Regions from separate parts of the Homo sapiens genome. Here region 2 is linked to region 1. A link means that fine-mapping ties the variant in region 1 to the expression of a gene that starts in the linked region. Tissue or cell type: unexposed skin. Region 1 holds a variant in brackets; the other region holds the start of a gene. All regions are shown on one strand. Distances are between the middles of the regions.

Region 1 (2,756 bases):
AACATATTTTAAGATCTCTGCATTTATTGAGCACACTGGAGTTACACTCAGTCTAATGGAAGAGGTGGACATGTAAAATCAAAGTTATCTGAAGTAAAGTACTTAATATAATGCTCTGCATGCTCAGAGCACTACAGGCACGCGCCACCTTGCCTGACTAATTTTTGTATTTTTTTGTAGAGACCGGGTTTCACCATGTTGCCCAGGCTGGTACAGACTGTAGTTAAGAGTATATATATCCGTAGGCTGGGAGCCGCGGCTCACGCCTGTAACCCCAACACTTTGGGAAGCCAAGGCAGGTGGATCACTTGAGCTCAGGAGTTTGAGACCAGCGTGGGTAACATGGCAAAACTCCATCTCTACTAAAAATACAAAAATTAGCCGGGCATGGTGGTACCCACCTGTAATCCCAGCTACTCAGAAGGCTGAGGCACGAGAATTGCTTGAACTCGGGAGGCAGAGGTTGCAGTGACCCGAGATCATGCCACTGCACTCCAGCCTCGGAGACAGAGTGAGGCTAAAAAAAAAAGTATATATATATTAAATATTATATTTGTTATGTATATATAACAAATTTGTGAACCTGAACAAGAAACTGACAGCAGTAAAAGAAACACAGACCAGGCTGGGCGCAGTGGCTCACGCCTGTAATCCCAGCACTTTTGGATGCCGAGGGGGACAGATCACCTGAGGTCAGGAGTTAAAGATCAGCCTGACCAACATGGAGAAATCCCATCTCTACTAAAAATACAAAATTAGCCGGGCGTGGTGGTGCATGCCTGTAATCCCAGCTACTCGGGAGGCTGAGGCAGGAGAATCACTTGAACCCGGGAGGCAGAGGTTGTGGTGAGCCAAGATCACACCATTGCACTCCAGCCTGGTCAACAAGAGCAAAACTCCAAAAAAAGAAAGAAAGAGGCCAAGTGCGGTGGCTCACACCTATAATCCCAGCACTTTGGGAGGCCGAGGCAGGCGGATCACGAGGTCAGGAGATCAAGACCATCCCGGCTAACACGGTGAAACCCCGTCTATACTAAAAATGCAAAAAAATTAGCCAGGCATGGTGGCGGGTGCCTGTAGTCCCAGCTACTCAGGAGGCTGAGGCAGGAGAATCACTTGAACCCGGAAGCAGAGGTTGCAGTGAGCCGGGATCGTGCCATTGCATTCCAGCCTGGGTGACAAAAGCGAAACTCTGTCTCAAAAATTAAAAAAAAAAAAAAAAAAAAAAAAAGGAAAAGAAAAGAAATGAAAAAGAAAGTGAAGGGGAGAAAAGCATCTGTAAAAGCCCAAGGGTGGTAGGATGAGAGCTCGTTTCCCTGTGCACCTGGGGATGCACACTCCCCTGGAGGACCAGGGAGGCGCCCTCGTCCTCTTAGGGCCACTCTAGGTGAGGAGAAGGAACCGTCTATTGTCCTAGAAAGGCCGATCCTCTCTAGGCTTCCAAATCGATGGTGAGCTGGAAGAGTGGTGATGCGGCTCATCTTCAGAGCGCTTTCTTGTGCTGTCGTTGTCCTCCAGAGAAGAGGTTGGGGGCTGTGCAAGATGGGACAATGACCACCCAGGGTAGGCCCATGTCATAGTATGGCAGTGCCGAGGCCTTAAAAATCTATGGTTTTTTGTTTTTTTTTTTGAGGTGGAGTTTCGCTCTTGTTGCCCAGGCTGGAGTGCAGTGGCG[C/T]GATCTTGGCTCACCGCAACCTCCACTTCCCGGGGGTTCTAGCAATTCTCCTGCCTCAGCCTCCTGAGTAGCTGGGATTACAGGCATGCACCACCATGCCCGGCTAATTTTGTATTTTTAGTAGAGACGGGGTTTCTTCATGTTGGTCAAGCTGTTCTCGAACTCCCGACCTCAGGTGATCTGCCCGCCTCGGCCTCCCAAAGTGCTGGGATTACAGGCGTGAGCCACCACACCCAGCCAAATGCTGAGTTCTTATCATGAGTGATGATGATGAGTTATGGCTATTTCGAGCTGCTAGAGGCCTGCCTTTTTTTTTTTTTTTTTTTTTTTTTTTTATTGTAATGCAGGACGGGAAATGCAACAAACAGCCTCCATGTTCTTGCTGTCTGGGGATGGTATGAGACGTATTCCTTCCTCAGGGCCTTTGCATATCCTATTCTCTCTTCCTAGAATGCTCTTCCTCCAGAGCCCTTATGTCTCTTTCACCTCTTTTATACTCTACCCAAAAGTCTGCCATCCTATCTAATAGTTCAGTGTCCTACCTCCCTCCAGTCACACACTTTATAGCCCCCTTTCTCACTTTATATTTTCTAAACAGTTGTCTTTGTTTTGTTTTGTTTTTGTTTTTGTTGTTTTTGTTTGAGACGGAGTCTCGCTCTGTCACCCGCACGGGAGTGGCTGCTCCTGCATCCTCCACCTCCTGGATTCAAGCGATTCTTCTGCCTCAGCCTCTCAAGTAGCTGGGAATACAGGTATGTGCCACCACATCCAGCTAATTTTTGTATTTTTAGTAGAGACAGAGTTTTGCCATGTTGGCCACGCTGGTTTCGAACTCCTGACCTCAGGTGATCCACCTGCCTCAGCCTCCCAAAGTGCTGGGATTAAGACATAAGCCACCACGCCCGGCCCGTACTACATATTTTATTTACTTTTTAAATTATTGTTTTGTTTTCTCCTCTGATTGTATAATTCACGAGGGCAGGGATTATTGTTAGGTTTTTTTTTTCACTGCTCTGTCCCCAGAGCCTAGACCCACACTATCTAGGTACATACAAATATAGAGAATGAGGGCCTACAGTGG
Region 2 (2,620 bases), 20 kb after region 1:
ATCTCTACGAAAAATACAAAAATTATCCAGGCGTGGTGGCAGGCGTCTGTAATCCCAGCTACTCGGGAGTCTGAGGCAGGAGAATGGCGTGAACCTGGAAGGTGGAGCTTGCAGTGAGCCGAGATCGCGCCACTGCACTCCAGCCTGGGCGACAGAGCGAGACTCCGTCTCAAAAAAAAAAAAAAAAAAAAAAAAAAGCAAAAATTAGCCAGGTGTGCACACCACGTCCAGCTAATTTTTTTTCAACCATTTAAAAGTGTAAAAACAGCTGGCCAGGCACGGTGGCTCACGCCTGTAATCCCCAACACTTTGGGAGGCCGGGGCAGGTGGATCACCTGAGGTCAGGAGTTCAAGACCAGCCTAGCTAACATGGCGAGACCCTGTGCACTAAAAAGACAAAAATTAGCAGGGCATGGTGGTGGGCGCCTGTAATTCCAGCTACTCGGGAGGCTGAGGCAGGAGAATGGCTTGAACCCGGGAGGCAGAGGCTCGTGCCATTGCACTCCAGCCTGGGCAACAAGAGCAAAACTCCGTCTCAAAAAAAAAAAAAAAAAAAAAAAGTGTAAAAACAGCTGAGCGTGGCGGTAGCTAGGTGTGGTGCGTCTGTAGTCCCAGCTACTTGGGAGGCTGAGGTAGGAAGATTGCTTGAGCCCAGGAGTGCCAAGCCAGCCTGAGCAACATAGTGAGACCTTGTCTCTACCAAAAAAAAAAAAAAAAAAAAAAAAAATTAGCTGGACATGGTGATGCTCGCCTGTGGTCCCAGCTACTTGTGGGGGGGTGGGGAGAGGCTGAGTGGGAGGATCCCTTGAGCTTGGGAGGTTGAGGCTGTAGTGAGCCGCGATCGCGCACCGCTGCGCTCTAGCCTGGGTGACAGAGTGAGACCCCGTCTCAAAATTAATTAATTAATTAAAACAACAAACAACAAAACCCCAGCTGTGTGGGCTCTGGGCTGGGCCGCCTCCCCGGCGGAGGGGGCTCCCTCTCAGGCAGACCGCCAGCCGCTGGGTCCGGGGACTGCCGGATCCGGAGGTGCGGGGACCCCTGCGCACCTGGCGGCTCCCGGGATGCCCCCCTGAGGCAGGCGGGAGGGCAGCACGGAGACGCCCCTCCGGGCAGAGCCCGCCCCAGCCACTCCCCTCTCCAACTCGACCTGCCTCAGCAAGTCCTGAGTGTCGCAAAAGCGCTAGGGTTGCAAGTGGCACCAGAGACGTGCCCTTGTCCCGGGGTCCATTTGAGGGTGAGCGTGTTGGTGCCGAGCTGTTTTTTTGTTTTGTTTTGTTTTGTTTTGTTTTTGAGACCGAATCTCGTTCTGTCGCCCAGGCTGGAATGCAGTGGTGTGATCTTGGCTCACTGCAACCTCCACCTTCCGGGTTCAAGTGAATCTCCTGCCTCAGCCTCCTGAGTAGCTGGGATTACTGGCACCCACCACCACGACCAGCTAATTTTTGTATTTTTAGTAGAGACGGGTTTTCACCATGTTGGCCAGGATGGTCTCAATCTCCTGACCTCAGGCGATCTGCCTTCCTCAGCTTCCCAAAGTGCTGGGATTACAGGTGTGAGCCACCGCACCCGGCCAGTGCTGAGCTGTTTTGACAACTTGGACCCCGGGTCCTCTGTGGGTAGGAAAATCAGCTCCCTCTTTGCTCCTCTGGGGCAGCTGCACCTCGGGCCAGCTTTCTGCCTGTCTGCCTGCCGGCACTGCTGGGTCGCTGTACCCAAACGCACAGCCGGTGCCCCGTGGTAAGTCCTGGCTCCCCACCTTCCCCGCCCGCCCCCGGCCACCTCTCCCTCCAGTTGCCCTGGTCTTAGCAGTCTGACCGACTTGTCTTCTGACTCCGGTTCTGTCCCACCAGCCTATTACCTGCCAGCCTGTCTGTTTCCCTCCAGCTAGAAGGTCTTCAGTTTCCAGAAGAACCAAAGCATCTTTGGACCTACCTAGGGAAGGACCTGCCTGTGACCTTTGCCCTGTCCTGGAGGGTCCAGCTTTGGGCTGAATGGCAGCACCCACGCTGGGCCGTCTGGTGCTGACCCACCTGCTGGTGGCCCTTTTTGGCATGGGCTCCTGGGCTGCTGTGAACGGGATCTGGGTGGAGCTGCCTGTGGTGGTAAAAGACCTTCCAGAGGGTGAGTGGGAGGGAGGTACAGGGAAGCGTGGGGCAGGTATGCCCAGAAAGGTGGCCTGTGGCAGCTCTTTGTCCCTTAGCCACTGTGCTCCTGACATGGCATCATTCCTTCCCTGCAGGTTGGAGCCTCCCCTCATACCTCTCTGTGGTTGTGGCGCTGGGAAACCTGGGTCTGCTGGTGGTGACCCTGTGGAGGCAGCTGGCCCCGGGCAAGGGCGAGCAGGTCCCCATCCAGGTGGTACAGGTGCTGAGTGTAGTGGGCACAGCCCTGCTGGCCCCTCTGTGGCACCACGTGGCCCCAGTGGCAGGGCAGCTCCACTCTGTGGCCTTCCTAACTCTGGCCTTGGTGTTGGCAATGGCCTGTTGTACCTCTAATGTCACTTTCCTGCCCTTCCTGAGCCACCTGCCACCTCCTTTCTTACGGTCTTTCTTCCTGGGTCAGGGTCTCAGTGCCCTACTCCCCTGTGTGCTGGCCCTAGTGCAAGGTGTGGGCCGCC

What was found. PIP is the estimated chance that this variant, and not a neighbour inherited with it, causes the effect.
Region 2: SLC52A1 starts here. The variant in region 1 is fine-mapped to the expression of SLC52A1 in unexposed skin (GTEx, PIP above 0.99).

What each region holds. Positions count from the first base shown.
Region 1 is chr17:5,054,368-5,057,123 of GRCh38, reverse strand. No RefSeq gene overlaps it. Among named protein-coding and RNA genes, the nearest start is that of SLC52A1, 20 kb to the right of the region's middle. RefSeq lists an enhancer at 1,276-1,570. The variant C/T (reference allele first, on the strand shown) is at 1,676.
Region 2 is chr17:5,033,981-5,036,600 of GRCh38, reverse strand. It overlaps SLC52A1 (solute carrier family 52 member 1), which reads left to right and starts at 1,175. Exons shown (of 5, transcript NM_017986.4): 1 at 1,175-1,740; 2 at 1,888-2,124; 3 at 2,243-2,620. The coding sequence starts at 1,995. All of the region lies in intron 3 of LOC105371501 (a long non-coding RNA gene), which reads right to left.